5 linked regions of the Homo sapiens genome follow. The protein of the gene in region 1 purifies or fractionates together with the protein of each later gene. This does not show direct contact. Each region holds a gene or a part of one and is shown in the gene's direction. Other genes may lie near its edges. The genes, in order: SPDEF, PRDM16, SLC30A9, FASTKD1 and PRMT8.

The links.
Region 2: the proteins of SPDEF (region 1) and PRDM16 purify together in Homo sapiens (affinity purification with mass spectrometry; 3 studies listed by BioGRID and IntAct, with this or other methods). This does not show direct contact.
Region 3: the proteins of SPDEF (region 1) and SLC30A9 purify together in Homo sapiens (affinity purification with mass spectrometry; 2 studies listed by BioGRID and IntAct, with this or other methods). This does not show direct contact.
Region 4: the proteins of SPDEF (region 1) and FASTKD1 purify together in Homo sapiens (affinity purification with mass spectrometry; 3 studies listed by BioGRID and IntAct, with this or other methods). This does not show direct contact.
Region 5: the proteins of SPDEF (region 1) and PRMT8 purify together in Homo sapiens (affinity purification with mass spectrometry; 2 studies listed by BioGRID and IntAct, with this or other methods). This does not show direct contact.

The regions. Positions count from the first base shown.
Region 1 is NC_000006.12:34,553,530-34,557,742, reverse strand, and holds the start of SPDEF (SAM pointed domain-containing Ets transcription factor), read left to right. Parts: upstream 1-1,413; 5' UTR 1,414-1,814; intron 1,815-4,213. UniProt on the Homo sapiens protein: May function as an androgen-independent transactivator of the prostate-specific antigen (PSA) promoter. Binds to 5'-GGAT-3' DNA sequences. May play a role in the regulation of the prostate gland and/or prostate cancer development.
Region 2 is NC_000001.11:3,072,198-3,075,717, forward strand, and holds part of PRDM16 (histone-lysine N-methyltransferase PRDM16), read left to right. Parts: exon of another isoform or gene 1-3,365; intron 3,366-3,520. UniProt on the Homo sapiens protein: Binds DNA and functions as a transcriptional regulator. Displays histone methyltransferase activity and monomethylates 'Lys-9' of histone H3 (H3K9me1) in vitro.
Region 3 is NC_000004.12:42,074,014-42,077,533, forward strand, and holds part of SLC30A9 (proton-coupled zinc antiporter SLC30A9, mitochondrial), read left to right. Parts: intron 1-1,643; coding exon 1,644-1,773; intron 1,774-3,520. UniProt on the Homo sapiens protein: Mitochondrial proton-coupled zinc ion antiporter mediating the export of zinc from the mitochondria and involved in zinc homeostasis, zinc mobilization as well as mitochondrial morphology and health.
Region 4 is NC_000002.12:169,528,858-169,532,377, reverse strand, and holds part of FASTKD1 (FAST kinase domain-containing protein 1, mitochondrial), read left to right. Parts: intron 1-887; coding exon 888-1,026; intron 1,027-1,676; coding exon 1,677-1,791; intron 1,792-2,451; coding exon 2,452-2,553; 3' UTR 2,554-3,520. UniProt on the Homo sapiens protein: Involved in the down-regulation of mitochondrial MT-ND3 mRNA levels which leads to decreased respiratory complex I abundance and activity.
Region 5 is NC_000012.12:3,497,695-3,501,214, forward strand, and holds part of PRMT8 (protein arginine N-methyltransferase 8), read left to right. Parts: intron 1-3,520. UniProt on the Homo sapiens protein: S-adenosyl-L-methionine-dependent and membrane-associated arginine methyltransferase that can both catalyze the formation of omega-N monomethylarginine (MMA) and asymmetrical dimethylarginine (aDMA) in proteins such as NIFK, myelin basic protein, histone H4, H2A and H2A/H2B dimer.

The DNA.
Region 1 (4,213 bases):
TTAGCATCTCATGAGCATCGAACATACAGGCATACAGTAGGTGCCTGTTAAGCAGTGGTCATTAGTATTAATGCATCAGAATGCTGTGATATAAGCCAGGCTTCTGTGAGAGTGGGGAGGAGGGAGGCGTGGCCACCAGAGAAGCAGGCACAAAAACGCACTCTAGGGGAAGGAGATCCACCTGGAAACGCAGCGTGTCTTTCTTTATTGACCCTGGAGGGCTGGACCATTGGGGATTAGGAGTGGTCGAGTGTACCATTTCAGGACCTTGTGTTACCTCCCCTTCCTCCGCTCCATCCTCCCTCAACCTTCTCTGGGGAATGACTGATAACTGATCCTCAACCAAGGTGCCAGTGACGATAACAGCCAAGTACAGGGCTCCCTGGGGGTGCAAAGTGCAACCTTACGTTGGAGAATGTGGGTATTGGTGAAGGTGAGGGGCTAGTTCTAAAGGCCTTGGGATCCCCTGCAGCCCCAGAATCCTCATGCTCTCGGCAGTTACACAGTTACTCCTGAAACAAGAGAAAAATCAGCATTATCTAGAACTTTCTCCCGTCAGAATGGAGGTAGCAGGTACGTGGAGCCCTTCTGAGATGATTTGGAGAAAGGAAGGCCCAGCCTCCAGGGACAACTCTCAGCCCACCTGGCAGGACATGGAGGAAGCCAAAAGCTGGACTGTGTGGCCCCCGCAGGGCTCAAGGAGGTGGAGGGTCTGGGGCAGCAAGTGCTTGGTGGTGGGTACCTCTGTCCTGCGTGGCATCCCTGCCATCACCCTTTGGGGCTATGGGAGAGCAAGTTGCTGCTGGCTGGCCCCCGATTACGGGCCTGGGAAAGCGAGCTAGGAGTCCTTCCTCACCGCCACTGTGTGACAGGTCTGCATGAGGACCCTGTGGGGCACAGAGAACACAGTTCCCACCAGGTCGTGGTTGGCCCACAAGCCTCGGGATCCCTCCCCAGGGTTCTCTGAAGCTCTCTCCATCCCTGGCCTGAGTAGCCAGACAGCACCTCCTCCAGGAAGCCCTCACTGATTTCCCTAGTTGGTGCCCACCCTCAGTGCCCCCTCAGTCCTCCATCTGGGCATGGGTGGTTCTGGATCTCCACTGCTGCTCACTTGTCTGTCTCTGGCCCTCAGCTGATCCATCTTAGAACCCCAGCCCTGGACCCACTCGACGTATCTCTGGCGCCTTGCACGTAATATGAGCTGAGTGGCTATGCAGCAACCAATGAACGAGTGAATGAGCGAGTGAATGAATGAGTCCCCTAGCTGTCAGGGCATGGATCCCCCAGCAAGGAGGGGGAGACCTGCAAGGGTTAATCAGGAGCCTGCCTGTGGTCTGAGGTAAGCAAGGAGTGTATTTGTTCAGGTAAATAAGGAAGGATTACTTATAATGGGAAATCAGGCCCTGGCCAACTCTTCATCTCGCGGCTGTCTGACTTCCTCCCAGCACATTCCTGCACTCTGCCGTGTCCACACTGCCCCACAGACCCAGTCCTCCAAGCCTGCTGCCAGCTCCCTGCAAGCCCCTCAGGTTGGGCCTTGCCACGGTGCCAGCAGGCAGCCCTGGGCTGGGGGTAGGGGACTCCCTACAGGCACGCAGCCCTGAGACCTCAGAGGGCCACCCCTTGAGGGTGGCCAGGCCCCCAGTGGCCAACCTGAGTGCTGCCTCTGCCACCAGCCCTGCTGGCCCCTGGTTCCGCTGGCCCCCCAGATGCCTGGCTGAGACACGCCAGTGGCCTCAGCTGCCCACACCTCTTCCCGGCCCCTGAAGTTGGCACTGCAGCAGACAGCTCCCTGGGCACCAGGCAGCTAACAGGTGAGTCCAACAGGAGGTGGGGGTACCCTGGCATGGGGTCTTTCCCTGCCAGCTGGGGGGTGGGCGACTGCAGGCAGGACTTGGAGGGGGCGCACTTTGCCAGCTCAGAGCTCATCTCCCAGTCATCAGTGACCCTGTGACCTGGATCCCTTTACCCTCAGAATTCCTTGCCCCCTCCTCATGCTCCCCAGACTGCCTCTCTGGGCCAACTCTACATGCTGGGTGAGCCCCCTTGCCCGGCAAGGCCTGGGGTCCCCCACACTGAGCCCAGTCTGCCCAGCCTGAGGGGAGGCCGCCGTGCAGATGCAGAGCCCCGGCCCCTGAGACCCAGCCAGTTCTGCTTGGCTGGAGAAACACAAGCGGCTTGCTGCTGCTGCCAACCCAGCTGCTCTGCTGAGGAAAGGGTCTCCCTGGTGCCAGGCCACCAGTGGGCAGGGGCTTGCTGGAGCTTGATGGGTCAGGGCTAAGTCTAAGGCCGGGTCCAGTTCGGGACAGGGGAGACAGGTCCAGAGCCCAGTAGCTGGGCTGGGCAGGGATGGGCACAGGAACCAGGGGGCTGGGGTCACCGCTGAGCACACACTCTGAGCCCTTGGACACTGGGGGAAGCTGAGAGCCTTGGGTCCTGGTCTTGGCACACAAGGAAAGCAACAGTAGCAGTACCTCGAAGGTGCTCATTTCTAAGATTTGCCAGATTTCTGCGGTGGAGAGAGGAAGTGGGTGGTGGGATGACAGGGTGGGAAGCTGAAGGGCCTGGGCGACTGGGTGCCCCTGAGGCTGGTGGAGGTGTGTGCGTGCGTGTGTGTGCGCGGAAGTATGTGTGTGTGTGGTGTGTGCATGTGCGCGTGCGTGTTGCATGTGCATGTGTGTGTGCGTGTGTGTGCATGTTGGGGAGGGGCAGGCCAAGATCCCTCACCTCACCTATCAGCTGGGGCCGCCCAGCAGCCCACACCCAGGCCATGAGCCCCGCGTAGCCTGTGTCCTTTATGATGGCCATGGGCTTTCTCCTCCTCCTCGGCCAGGGCTGGGACTTGCCTCATTTCCTGCCGCAACCTCCCCAATAAAGCTGCATCTCCCCATCACCAGCTGCTCAGCTGAGTAACAAAGCAAACAGGCGTCCAGGCTGCCCCAGGCCCAAGCTGGTGGGCAGGGATGGGGAGGAGACGCCCCACCAGACGGGCAGGCCCAGGCCATGGTTCAGCCAGGCCAGTTGGGCTGAGCTTCCCTCCACCCACCTGCAAGAGGGGCCAGAGCCAAGGACCCCCAGCTTGGAGTCCCACCACCCCAAACTCACAGACAAATGGTGGGGGGCATTCTCGGAGCTCCCAGGCAGGTGGGGCTGTGTGGAGGAGGTGGTCTCACTGCGTAGGGGACCCACCCTCGCCTTTGAGAGGCTGACAGTGCATGTACAAGCATTTCCTCTGAGTGAGGCCCCGTGGGGGTATCCAGAGCTGAAAACTACCAGACTTGCTTATTGCACACTGTCAGTTGTAAAACACTTTGGTTTTCACAAGGACCCTCTGAATTCGATAGGGCTTCTCTGTCAACCAAGTCTGAGGGAATAGGGCTGCACTCAGTAGGTGCTCAGTCGATGCTCAGAAAGTGTGATGCTGGCAGGAAGTGCAAAAACCGGGAGAACCCACTTTTTACCACTGAGGTCGTTGTGAGTATAAAGTGAATAGCCCTGAAACCGTTAGAGCAGTTTTGTGCTAAATGACTTGTTGCAGCCTGAGTATAACCCGGGGAAGTTAATTTAGTCTGACAGGGGGACACAGACCCTCAAGGTGGAGGGCAAGAAGGAACAGGTGAGGTCCCGCCATGTGGGACCGTGGGCGGGTCACTTTTCCTCACTGTACTTGCAACACCTTGTCTGTGAAACAAGGTTAGACAAGGCTATTGCCTGTTAAAGCAGGCTTCACGGAGGAGACAGCCTGGAGCAGGACCTTGAAGGCTGTGTAGGAGTTGGATTTGCCAGCCGGTCTCCTGGGCGTTGGGGGGTGGTGGCGGGTGCGGGGGCCGGGGGGAAGTGGGTGGGGCAGGAATTCTTGGTTCTGGTTCCTCCTAGAGGGCAGGGAGGGTGGGTGAAGCCTGCAGCTGCCTGGACTGGGCTAGAGAACAGGACAGGGCCCCAGCCTCCCTCACCACCATCCTCAGCTCCCCCCAGACTCCACTCTCTCGCCCACTCCCTCTACTCCCCATCACCTTCCGCTTCTTCCTTTGCTCCCCGGCTTCCTCACCCCATTCCCTCTCTCTTTCCTCTTCTCCAGCTGATCCCCTCACCTGTGCCCAGGGCCCCCCTCATGTACACTCAACCCATCATAAATGATTTCCATTCACCCTCCATCTCAATCTCCACAACCCCTTTAAGACATACTCTTGACAGCCCATTTAACAGACAAGAA
Region 2 (3,520 bases), on another chromosome or scaffold:
CTCAATGCTTAACAAAAGCTTATTGTTTCCAGGGCTGTTGTGAGCCAGGTGGGCAGGTGGGGGGTTAGCACCACCAAGGTGCTCTCTGGATCACCATCGCCCTCATAGCACAGCTGGGGGCCTCTGTGCAGGAGGAGGATGTGCCAGTCGGCACCCCCATCAGAGCTGCTCCTTGAGGCCTGATCCCCACCTAGGTGGCAGACCCCATGTCCTAGATGCCACATACCCCAGGGCTGGGGGAGTGTCCTCTCCACAAGTCCCATCTAGCCCCTGGGGTGGGGGAGCTGCAGCCCCCACTAGATGGGGACTGTGTGTGTCTTGCTCGTGTTTGAGGGTGATGCGTGTGGAAGGTGTGCTGGAGACAGGGTAGAGGTAAGCGGGGCTGGCGGCCCAGTTCACAGCCTCCTTCCTTCTTCGTAGAAACAGGCCAGGCTGGCTGGGCCCTCCCTTCTCCCACCCTCCCTGGGGCAGTTGGCCCCGTCCACCAGTCCCCTCCCCAGAGCCAGGACGGCAGCCTTCCCTCTGAAGGCCGGTTAGGGCAGCAGCGCCAGGACGTCCGGCGGGAATCCAGCGTCTTGCCCCGCTTCGGACGAAAACACAGAGGCTGCGGTGGAGGGGTGGAGTGCGGGGCTGGCCGCCAGGGCTTGGTGCCCCACGGCAGTGGACTGTGTGTCACCCACAGGCCCCCTCCCTCAGCCCCTGGCTGCGCAGGTGTGCCATGGCTCGGAAGCTGGCAGGAGGGGCTTGCCAAGCTGGCTTGTGGAGCAACTGCTGGGTGGGCTCCTTGGGGACAGGCACCGGCCATGCCTGGCTCGCCAACCACCAGACGCCCACTCGGGGGGTCCTCCTTGTCCTGTGAGCGGCTCTTCCAGAGCAGGTGCCAGCCCGACATCCTGGCCCCTCCTGGCCCCGAGGCTTCCTCGGCTCCCAAGTCCTCCTGTAGGCAGTGCGCAGGGCAGGGGACCAGGTCTGCCATTTCTGCCGGGAGGCTGGGTGAAGGGGACCCAGCAGCCAGGGGCTCCCCCCACCGGGCCCCTCAGGGGAGGTGAGGCTGGTGGCAGCTCGCTGGGCCGCTGTGGGCCCGATTAGCCCCCTGTTTTATTCAATTAGGAGGCAATTAGGGATCCTTGGGGGGCTTGGGCTGGTAATTAAGGTGATGTATAATTAGAGTTTCAACAAAAATTATCCGGGATTAAAAATCTTTTGAATAATTTCGTTTAAAATTTTCAAATAGCGTTAAATACAATTTATCAGGTTTTGAATCAAACCCGTGTAACGAGTCTTGGAAGCTGCAGCTCCCGTCGCCGGCGCGGGAGGACCAGGAGCAGCTCCGGCGACTTCCCCGTGCGGGAAGGAAACTTCGCGAGCGAAGCCAGCTGGCTGGGGCCTCGCCGCGGTGCAGCGGCGGCCGCGGGCTCAGAATCGAGCCACCGAGGGCTGCAGACGGCGTGGGCCGGGTCGGGGAGCGGGGCCTGGGGGACCCCGGGCCGGCCGGTAGTCTCGGCCGACTTCCCACTCCCCGCGCACAAAGTCGCGGCCAACTACCGCGGAGCAGCGCCCGCGTCCACACCGCGCAGCCTGGCGCCCCGACCCTGGCCCAGCGGGAGCGGCGCTCTCCCCTTCTAGAGCCCCAGCTTGGACCCCGGGGTCCCCTCCTCCTGGCCTCCCTTGCGGAGGAGGGCGGCCTCCGCGTCCCCAACCGCCGACCCTCGACCTCGTGCGGGACACCGTGGGCGCCAGGCCCCCCGCTTGCCTGGGTTCCCTGCGACATCCCGACCCGCGCCCCGAGAGACGCGGGAGCGCGCGCCGCCTGGGTTTAAGTAGGGGCTGTAGGGGGAGGGAAGACGGTGCAGAGAAACGGAGGCAGAGGGTGGGGGTCTGGCTTTCCAGGGTAGACCCGCCTGCCCAGTCTGATCCGCAGCCCCGGCCCCTGCCGGCAACCTCGGGAGACGGGCCGGGCTCCCTAGTGCACTTGGGGGACAGGACACCTCCTCCCTTCACTGACCCTGGGAAGACAGAGTGCAGGCGAGCAGGCACCACTTTTGAGAGTGAGAAACCCCAGACGCAGAGAGGTGGAGGAACTCTTGGGAGGGCACACAGCAGATTGAGGCTCCAGTGAAATTCAGTGGAATGAAGACCTCCAGGGCTTCTTATGTAGCATTCCCCTCCCCCACAGAGCACCACAGGCTGCCGTTAATTCCATAGGGTTTTTTCTGTGTGTGTGTGTGTGTGCGCGTGTGTGTGTGCGTGTCAGGGTTTAAGCATTTTCTCAAGGCCAATGCTCAACTTGTAGCAGGTCTGTTCTTAAAAAGCAGGCAGGACATCACGTGCGTCCAGCGTGTAAGTGACCTCACACCTGCAGGCTGGACTCCCGCTGGGCTCCGTCCCCCACAGCTCCTGCCCCTTCTGTGGGTGTTCTGTCCCCAAGGGCAGGCACAGAGGAGCAGAAACCTTGGTCGGGTGGCCTGGCCTGCACCCTCCACACTCCCTCGCTCACTGCCTTCATCCGGAGCAAATGCAGGAGGCTCAGGTTGGCCCGGGAGGTGTAGGACCTGCCCTTTGCCACCCCTCAGATCTGGAGGGGAATAACCACCACCCACCGCCTCCACCCACCGCCCAGCAGTCAGGGGGAGGTGGAGCTGCTGCTGCCCTGTTGGTCTGAGCTGCAGGGTGGAAGGGGCCGGCTGCTGACATCCCTGGTCCAGCCTGGCGTGGGCCACGGCTCCTGAAGTCTGGGTGTCTCCTAGGCTGCAGCCAGGGCCACGGTGGTCATCCTGGGCCAGGAGTGCTCCCAAGCTTTGGTGGGCCCAGAGCAGGGGAGGAGTGGCCTCTCCCTGGTCTGACCACTTCACTCTTGGGCTTTTGCCATCAAATCCTCCACGGTCTGGAGGTGCCTGGGCTGGCCCGCCTGGCCGGCCTAGCCTGAGACGCGGGAACAATGCCCCGAGGCCTGAAGATAGGAGTGCTGGCCGCTCCAAGATCATATTTGTTTAATAGTTAACATTTTGGGCAGAAAAGGAGGGAAGTCAGATTCTGGTGAAGGTTTTGCTTATTTTATATCCACTATAACTATTTCTGTCCATGAAAATTGGCTTAATTATATCAATGGAATGTTTCTTTTTCAATTCTGTATGCAATTAGTCCATCTTGCCGGCTGCAATTTATTTTAATAAAAAAATAAACCAGTGGTGTGTTCAGTTCCTCGTCCCCTGGGGACAAATGCGATTGGTGTGTTTAATTTCATTAACTACAATGCGGCCTACTGGAAAAATGTATAAAATCAGCTTTATACAGCTTAAACACTGGCATTTGAAACAAATCATTATTGCATTAGCTGTCACACTGGTAATTCTAGAATCTAAGGAAAAAAATATATTATGGCTGTTTTTATAACCCTTTGCAAATGCACTGTTAAAATAATTTATAATCATTTTAAAACATGGCTGGGTCCTAGTGACTATTTCATCTCCTCTGAATAAGGCTCTGTGCCGTCCCATGCGCGTTTTCCGCGCTGATGGCG
Region 3 (3,520 bases), on another chromosome or scaffold:
AATGAAATGTGTTTATACTCTGTGAAGACTAAAGTAGAAATGATTTTTGAAAATGAATAAATATGTTCTGTGAGTTACCAGGAGAGAAAAAAAAAAGAATAAATGATATAGCCTTTTGCCAATCTGAAAAAGTTTTGTTTTAACTTGAGCACATGTAACTATAAATATTAAAACATTAATTCTTATTTCATCCTTGATGGTTGATTAAAATATAGCTTCCTTATATGGATAAAAAATTTTGGACTCAGTGTTTAGTAACCTGCTCAGGATCCCTCAGAAATTAGGGTCTAATGTTGTAAGAATACTTGGAGTCTTACGTAGGCTTGTTTTTCTAGTAAATCTCCATGTCCTCAGAATTCAGAGTGTTTTGTTATTTCTTATATGTGCTGTACAGAAAAGATCTTACAGTGATCACTGTAGAAAGAAGAGAATTTCTCAGCAGTTTCTAGGGAAGATTGTTTACTGAGGGTTAGAGCAGGAGGGGTGAAAAGTAGTTATGCTTGAGTATCTGCTTTCCTGTCTGGGAGGCAAAAGGGTATGATGCAAATACCACTGGGCTTGCATTTCTGAAGAGCTGGGCTGGGGAGTCCTAATCTGCTGTTTACTAGCTAAATTACCTTGAGCAAGTCACTTATGCCACTCTAGGATGGTTTTATCATGTATAAAATAAAGATGTCACCCTATCCACTTATGAAAGCCATCCATTAAATGCCTGCCTTATAGTTCTTACTGTATTAAACATTTTATATATGTATTAGCTCATTATTCCTCACATCAAGTCCCATGTGGCAGTTATTATTAACCTCATTCTAATAGAGAACTTCACAGCATTGTATGAAGACTTTTAAAGAAGCTAGTGAACATACAATTGGTTAATATACTCTACAACACCATTATAAATTAAAACAAATTTTTATATGGCATTTAGGAAATTGATAAGTAGATATATGGAGACAAAGGCTTATGAGATAACATGACATTTTAGAAAATTGATTTAGAGTTAATGAATATATATATATATATATATATATATATATATATATATATTTTTTTTTTTTTTTTTTTTTTTTTTTTTTTTGAGACAGAGTCTTACTCTGTTGCCCAGGCTGGAGTGCAGTGGCACAATCTGGGTTCACTGCAACCTCTGCCTCCCAGGTTCAAGCAATTCTCCTGTCTCAGCCTCCTGAGTAGCTGGGATTACAGGCATGCACCACCATGCCTGGCTAATTTTTGTAGTTTTAGTAGAGACAGGGTTTCACCATATTGGCCAGGCTGGTCTCAAACTCCTGACCTCAGGTGATCCTCCCTGCTCGGCCTCCGAAAGTGTTGGGATTACAGGCATGAGCCACTGCGCCCAGCAGAGTTAATGAACTTTTAATACATGAGCTTTATAATTCATAAATTACCATAAAATAATATTTGTTAAGTTTGCACCTTTGTATGATATCATGCCAAAAAAAAAGCTAAACGGACAGGCCTTGGAAAATGATAGGTGGTACTTAATGGTGAATACTCTGAAGCCATCTTAGTCCATTCTCGTAACTAGTGGGGAAAAAAACAATAATTCAAGCCTTTGTGCTATTAAAGTATATATATGTGTATGTATGTATAAATAAATTTGTATGCATTGTTATTGATTGCAGGGCAATTCATGATGTTAAAGCCACAGATCTGGGATTAGGTAAAGTAAGATTTAAGGCAGAAGTAGATTTTGATGGGCGAGTTGTTACAAGATCATATTTGGAAAAACAAGATTTTGACCAAATGTTACAAGTAAGTTTATTTGTTGTTTTCTTACATAACTGAGGGTTAGAAAAATGCTTTTAAGGTAAACAAAATGAAATTTTTTTTTATAGATCTTAAAGGCACTTTAGCTCTCAACTTCTTAGGTTCCAAAATTTAACAGAGACCTTTATATTTACTATGGAGGGGTTCAGAGGAGACAGCAAAAGAACAAACTTACTATTTCATGCTTGCTATGTGCATTTAATCTTTTTTTATCTAATTTACCCTCAACAACCCTGTTATTTCAACAATGAAATAACATTTTTATTTTAACATATATAGAAATTGAAAGACAGAGATTAAGTAATTTGCCTTAAGTTGTAGTGCCACAGAGATGGAGTCATATATGAATCGAGATCTGCCTGACTCCAGAATCCATTTTTTTATTAAGAATAGTTTAAAAGAGAATTTATAAAACAGAATATAATGAACAGCACAGATGTTACCACTTGCCCCTGTCAAATCTTAACATTTTGCTATAGTGTATTTGCTTAAGGTCTTAAAAAAAGAAATAATTACAAAAACAATTCAAGCCCCCATTTTCTCTTTCTATATCTCATTCTTCTTCTTCCATCCCTAGAATTAAACATTATGCTGAATTTGGTACCTGTCTTTTCCATTCAGATTTTTATACTTTTCAGCATTTTTTAGTGTAATATGTAACATTTTGAATGTTTAAAAATTGGTATAAATGGTATCCTACTGTATGCGTCTCTACAATTGGCATAACAACATATTTTTTAGATTCTTCCGTGTTAATTTATATATCTCTAGTCAGTTTACCTTCATTGTTATAGAGCATTTCATCCTATGAATATGCTGTAATTTATTTATTTTGTCTCCAGTTGATGGACATTTATATTACTGTTAGAAACAATGCCATGGCCGGGCGCGGTGGCTCACGTCTGTAATCCCAGCACTTTGGGAGGCCGAGGTGGGCGGATCACGAGGTCAAGAGATCGATCCCATCCTGGCCCACATGGTGAAAACCCGTATCTACTAAAAATACAAAAATTAGCTGGGTGTGGTGGTGCGTGCCTGTAGTCCCAGCTACTCGGCAGGCTGAGGCAGTAGAATCGCTTGAACCTGGGAGTTGGAGGTTGCAGTGAGCCTAGATCGTGCCACTGCACTCCAGCCTGGGCGACAGAGCGAGACTCCGTCTCAAAAAAAAAAAAAAAAGAAAGAAACAATGCCATGATTGCATTCTCACACGTTTCCTTGTTCACATATATGAAAATTTCTTTAGTATGGTGTATATATAGATAGCTAGATTTTAAATAGGTGGGCCATTGGGTGTACTTACCTTCAGCTTGCCTAGGTCTTACCAAGTTATTTTCCAAAGTGTGTCAATTTAACTTCCATCATTGTATATCAAGGTTCTTGCTTCCTATTCTTACATGATTGTATTAATAGAGTTATTAAATTTTTGCCAGTTTGATAGGTGTGAAATAGTATCTTGTTCTAATTTTATTTCTTGGAGCATTGAGGTTAATAAACATTGAAGTTCATTGACCAGTGGGATTTCCTCTACATTGCTCCCTGATTTTTCATGTTTTAAGTTCATTTGCATTACACTTATAGATTTGAAAGGTCTTTATTTTATTGCATTGTATTATTATTTTTTGAGACAGAGTCTCGCTCTGTCACCCAGGCTGGAGTGCAGTGGCGCGATCTTGGCTCACTGCAACCTCCGCCCCCCAGGTTCAAGCAATTATCTACCTCAGCCTCCCAAGTA
Region 4 (3,520 bases), on another chromosome or scaffold:
GTGCAGTGGCACAAGCATGGCTTACTGCAGCCTTGACCTCCTAGGTTCAAGGGATCCGCCCACCTCAGCCTCCTCAGCCGGAGTAGCTACCACTACACCTGGCTTATTTTTTAAGTTTTTTGTAGAGATTGGGTTTTGCCATGTTGCCCAGGCTGGTCTGGAACTCCTGAGCTCAAGCAATCTGCCTGCCTCGGCCTCCCAAAATGCTGGGATTACAGGTGTGAGCCACTGTGCCTGGCCTGGTTGTCTTTTATACATTAAGACTCATCAGTGGGTTCGTATGTTGTCAGCTGATTCATTCAACAGAAAGTTCCCCTGTCAGCTTTTCACCTGCTGATTTTAGCAGTTATTAATGATCACTCATTGCCTAAATCCATCATTCAGAGGGGTGGTAAAGTAGCGATATTCTACATCTATCATGCCTTCTACATTTATTAGCTGGAATTTGTCTAAAAAGGACTTTCCCATATCAACTGTTTAGTTACTCTTATGTACAATTCATGTAGAAAAGACAGGATAAATGCTTGTATCTTTTTCTTTATTAATTTTCAGATGAGTTGGTTTAGCTTTCTCCAAATGTAATCAAGAGCCTTAAAGAGATTGAAACTCTTTAATGTGATTTGGCCTAGCCCAGCGCTAAATGTAGCCTAGTACTTAATATTGTTTTGTAATTCTTCTGGTTGATTTTTTTATTGATTGATTTCCAAAGAGAGGTGCCATTGGACCAGATCTTATAAAAATAACTTGGATAATCTGAGAGGTTCGTCATTCTTTTGTGAGTGTGTGTGTGTACAAATATTATATGCATATATATTTCAAATATATCTTAAACTTTTATCTGTAAGACTTTACCTAATTCATACTACCAGTTTCTATGCTTCCTTAAGATTTTGAGTGTATCTTGGATAAAAGAAAAAAACCTCTTCCGTATGGAAGCCATAATATAGCATTGGGACAACTACCAGAAATGCCCTGGGAATCAAATATCGAAATAGTTGGATCAAGGCTGCCACCAGGGGCTGAAAGGTAATTTATTTCTTAGTTTTAGATTGTATTAATATCTAAATGTTAAATTTGGTGTACTATACTGAAGTCAGTGATCAAGGATTGAAGGTAGTGGAATCTGTTCCTCATATGTCATGCATTCCACCTTTGTAACTTTGCTTTTCCTCTCCTTTCTGCTTTAATGTTCTCCCTTCTTCTGTCCAAAGCCTAGCAATCTCCCTAACTAAAGTGCTAAAAGAATTGTCCTCCACTGGAAGTAAAATAGTATCTTCTTTTGCGCTCCCATACCTCTCTACTTTTCTCATAGCACTTAGCCACTTCCTACACTGCATTACAGTAACTTACTATACATCATGTGTTCTCTGTTAGACTATAAGCTGTGTTGCTTCATATTTGTACCCCTCACAGTGGTTTACATGTAGTAGGCATGTGTAAATATATATTGGACCAAAAAAATGGATGAAAGCAGACAAATATTTACAATAATTTTGTGTAACTAAATAGGTTTGTCATCAATTACTAATTTCTTAGTAGAAACATAACTTGATATACTCATTTATATTCATTGGCTTTTGTTAGTTTATAAAGATGCAATCTTGTTTCTGAAAAGCTTGTAATTATTCAGTTTCTTATTCTGATTTTAGGAGTAAATATTTTTTTATTTTATGTAGGATTGCTTTGGAATTTTTGGATTCAAAAGCACTTTGTAGAAATATCCCTCACATGAAAGGAAAATCTGCTATGAAAAAACGACATTTGGAAATTCTGGGGTATCGTGTAATTCAGGTATGAAATACTCATGTAATTCAGCCTCTAAAAAGCCCAGAGACACTAGCTGTACATGTGCTTCCTTTTAATGTGAAAGTTCCAGAATTACCTTTTTAAATATATTTTTTAAAATGTATCACTCAAACAGGCCAGATACAATAGCTCATGCCTGTAGCTACTTGGGTGGCTGAGGTGGGAGGATTGCTTGATCCTAGGAGATTGAGGCTGCAGTGAGCCGTGATCATCCCACTGCACTCCAGCCTGGGTGACAGAGCAAGACCCTGTCTCATAAAAATAAATAAATAAAAGTTGTCATTTATTTTATTGTCTTTAGAATATCCATATCTTATGATTTCTATATCTTACAAAGGAGAGAGGCACTGTAGAGATGGATAGAGTTATCAGAGGAAACAACTAGGTATGAATATAGAAGACTATGTAGGAAAAAATGTCCATCATTGGTATTGTAGGAAAAGGAGGATGAAAGGAGCAGAAAAAAGTATTCTAGGCAATGTCAGAAGGACCCACTTGGCTTCCAGTAGAGGTTCACAGGCTATCCTTATGTAAACTAATTTCATAGGATTCCTACAGCTTTGATCAGTAGTGCTTATATGTCTTCCTCAATGTTTTTTGTTGTTGCTTTAAAACTTTCATTCAAACAACATTACTTATTTTCAGATTTCCCAGTTTGAATGGAACTCTATGGCACTGTCAACAAAGGATGCTCGGATGGACTACCTGAGAGAATGTATATTTGGAGAAGTCAAGTCATGTTTGTAGTTTTTATTTAAAATGAATGTTATCGTGTGTTACATTTGGACCTATTTTAATAAAGTGGCCTGTCTCAATTAAAAAATAGGTACAAATGTCCTAAGGTGGGAACATGCCTGGCATGTTTGAGAATAACAAAGGATCCAGTGTGGCTGGAGCAGAACAAGTGGGGAGTGGGGTGGGAGTGTATAAGAGAAAAGATAAGAGATAACAGAGTCAAATACAACCTCTTGGCTACTCTGAGCGAGATGAGAAGCCATTGGGGGCTTTTCAAGTAAGGAATGATATGAATTCACATTTTAACTGCGTTACTTTGGCTACCTTGTTGAGATAAGAAAAGACTACGATGAGGCAAATGTGTAAGAAAGAAAACTCTTTACGAGGTCATTGCAATAATCCAGACAACAATGGATGGTGGCTTGGAGAGAGTGGTAGCAGTGGAGGTAATAAGAAGTAGTCAGATTTTTTGGATGTATGTTGAAGATAAAGGCAACAGAATTTGCTCACTGATTGGATATGAGGTATGAGACAAATAGGAGTCAAGGATAATTCTAAGTTTTTGTCCTAAGCAACTAAGAGGATGTCATTAGCATTAACTAAGATGGGGATAGTCTATAGGAAGAGCAAGATGGGGGGCAGGTGGTGGGGGTTGATCACAAGTTTGTTTTAGATATGTTGAGTTTGTGATGTCTTTTAAACATCTAAGTGGATATATCAAATAGAGAATTCAGTAAATGAGCTTGGAGGTCAGGGAAGAGGTCCAGGCCCCAGATATAAATGTATAAATGTCAGCAGTATTCAATGCCATGAGAGTAGATGAAATCGCTTAAAATGAGATTAGAGAAGAGTGTGAATGGAGGAGAGGTCTGAGGACTGAGTTTTCAAGTGCCCCAACATTAAAAGATTAAGAGGAAGAGGAGGAATCAGGAAAGGAGACTGAGCAGGGATGGCCAATGAGGTAGGAGGAAGGAAGGTA
Region 5 (3,520 bases), on another chromosome or scaffold:
TTCTTACTTCACTTGTTATAAGAATTCCCTCAAGCATCACAGTTTTTCCCATATTTGTAATGAGTGGCCCATAAGTAAAGATCTCTTTTTAAAGTGTAATTTTATATTGAGCAAACAGCTTGATGTGCGTATTTTCATAAAGTCATAGAATGTTAAAGTTGGGTGGAAACTCAAATCACTTAAGTCAGGAGATAGGAACTACTTGTCCAATATCACAGAGCTCTTCCGTGTTGGGGTCAAGATCCTGTGGACTCCTGGGTCTGTGCTCTTTATACCTCCTTTAAACGTAGCATCTCATTTATTGTTTTTATTTTTTGTGCCAACTTTCTGGTATATCCTGATCTGTACTGTCTAAGACCAGTGTTTCTCTGCATAAGGTCTAGGAATTGTGCATAGTGAGAGCTCTGACCTTCTTGTAGAACTTAAAATGCTCGCTTATTACATTGCATTGTGTGCAATGCTGTGAATTACATATATCCCCATTGTATGGATTAATAAACTGAAGCACAGAGAGTTACTGTTATTTGCTCAAAATCCCACAGCTGGTAAGTGATGAGGCTAGAGCTCAAAGTCTGGTTTTCTAATCACCAAAATGCTTTTTCTAGTCCGCTAGGCTGCGAAGGCATGAGAAGAACCAGAGTACAAACTTAAAATGTGAAGAGAAAGGGTGGAGAAATTAACAGCAGGAATGTGGAATGGTGAATTTGGAAGAAGCCTAGGAAGAGACACCAGCCCAGCTTTCCTTTTTCCAGGACGTCTTTTCTTGCTTCCACCGCCATCTTGCCATCCTCACTTTCACAGTCTCCAGTACTGTGCCGTGTGAGTGACAGGGGCCTGACATAATTGTGGCAGGGACAGCCATCACCTCACTCTCCCTGCGCATCTAAACTATCCCTAGGCGTGGGTTCCTAGCTGGACCCAGTAGACAATGTACTTGTCTAACAAAGTATAGCTCTTCGGAAGCTTGACCCTAGGCCATCAATATTAGATCTGGACTCTCATCCAGCTACTTTATTGGGATAAAATGAATACTAAAGTCTCCAGGACAGGAACTTTGTTTCTTAAAATTTATCTTTGTAGTTTCATCACCTGTATTACCCTCCTAGGTCTGCTGTAATAAAGTACCACAAACTGGGTGGCTTTAAAACAACGAGATGTCTTCTTCCACAGTTCTGGAAGCCAGAAGTCTGAAATCCAGATGCCAGCAGGGTTGGTTCCTCTTGAAGTCTTCATGGAGAATCTGTTCCTTGCCTTTCTTCTGGTTTCCCGTGGTGGCCAACGATGCTCAGCCTTCCTTGGCTATAGACACATCATCTGGTCTCTGCCTTCATCTTCACAGGGCATTCTTTCCTGTGTGTGTCTATACGTCTTCTTATAAGGACAACAGTCTTGTTGGATTAGGGGCCACTCTAATCCAATATGACTTCATCTTAACTTGATAACATCTGCAAAGACCCTATTTTTATTTTTATTTATTTATTTATTTTTTTTTTCCTTTCTTTTTTTTTTTTTTTATTATACTCTAAGTTTTAGGGTACATGTGCACATTGTGCAGGTTAGTTACATATGTATACATGTGCCATGCTGGTGCACTGCACCCACTAATGTGTCATCTAGCATTAGGTATATCTCCCAATGCTATCCCTCCCCCCTCCCCCCGACCCCACCACAGTCCCCAGAGTGTGATATTCCCCTTCCTGTGTCCATGTGATCTCATTGTTCAATTCCCACCTATGAGTGAGAATATGCGGTGTTAGGTTTTTTGTTCTTGCGATAGTTTACTGAGAATGATGGTTTCCAATTTCATCCATGTCCCTACAAAGGATATGAACTCATCATTTTTTATGGCTGCATAGTATTCCATGGTGTATATGTGCCACATTTTCTTAATCCAGTCTATCATTGTTGGACATTTGGGTTGGTTCCAAGTCTTTGCTATTGTGAATAGTGCCGCAATAAACATACGTGTGCATGTGTCTTTATAGCAGCATGATTTATAGTCCTTTGGGTATATACCCAGTAATGGGATGGCTGGGTCAAATGGTATTTCTAGTTCTAGATCCCTGAGGAATCGCCACACTGACTTCCACAATGGTTGAACTAGTTTACAGTCCCACCAACAGTGTAAAAGTGTTCCTATTTCTCCACATCCTCTCCAGCACCTGTTGTTTCCTGACTTTTTAATGATTGCCATTCTAACTGGTGTGAGATGATATCTCATAGTGGTTTTGATTTGCATTTCTCTGATGGCCAGTGATGATGAGCATTTCTTCATGTGTTTTTTGGCTGCATAAATGTCTTCTTTTGAGAAGTGTCTGTTCATGTCCTTCGCCCACTTTTTGATGGGGTTGTTTGTTTTTTTCTTGTAAATTTGTTTGAGTTCATTGTAGATTCTGGATATTAGCCCTTTGTCAGATGAGTAGGTTGCGAAAATTTTCTCCCATGTTGTAGGTTGCCTGTTCACTCTGATGGTAGTTTCTTTTGCTGTGCAGAAGCTCTTTAGTTTAATTAGATCCCATTTGTCAATTTTGGCTTTTGTTGCCATTGCTTTTGGTGTTTTGGACATGAAGTCCTTGCCCACGCCTATGTCCTGAATGGTAATGCCTAGGTTTTCTTCTAGGGTTTTTATGGTTTTAGGTCTAACGTTTAAATCTTTAATCCATCTTGAATTGATTTTTGTATAAGGTGTAAGGAAGGGATCCAGTTTCAGCTTTCTACATATGGCTAGCCAGTTTTCCCAGCACCATTTATTAAATAGGGAATCCTTTCCCCATTGCTTGTTTTTCTCAGGTTTGTCAAAGATCAGATAGTTGTAGATATGCGGCATTATTTCTGAGGGCTCTGTTCTGTTCCATTGATCTATATCTCTGTTTTGGTACCAGTACCATGCTGTTTTGGTTACTGTAGCCTTGTAGTATAGTTTGAAGTCAGGTAGTGTGATGCCTCCAGCTTTGTTCTTTTGGCTTAGGATTGACTTGGCGATGCGGGCTCTTTTTTGGTTCCATATGAACTTTAAAGTAGTTTTTTCCAATTCTGTGAAGAAAGTCATTGGTAGCTTGATGGGGATGGCATTGAATCTGTAAATTACCTTGGGCAGTATGGCCATTTTCACGATATTGATTCTTCCTACCCATGAGCATGGAATGTTCTTCCATTTGTTTGTGTCCTCTTTTATTTCCTTGAGCAGTGGTTTGTAGTTCTCCTTGAAGAGGTCCTTCACATCCCTTGTAAGTTGGATTCCTAGGTATTTTATTCTCTTTGAAGCAATTGTGAATGGGAGTTCACCCATGATTTGGCTCTCTGTTTGTCTGTTGTTGGTGTATAAGAATGCTTGTGATTTTTGTACATTGATTTTGTATCCTGAGACTTTGCTGAAGTTGCTTATCAGCTTAAGGAGATTTTGGGCTGAGACGATGGGGTTTTCTAGATAAACAATCATGTCGTCTGCAAACAGGGACAATTTGACTTCCTCTTTTCCTAATTGAATACCCTTTATTTCCTTCTCCTGCCTGATTGCCCT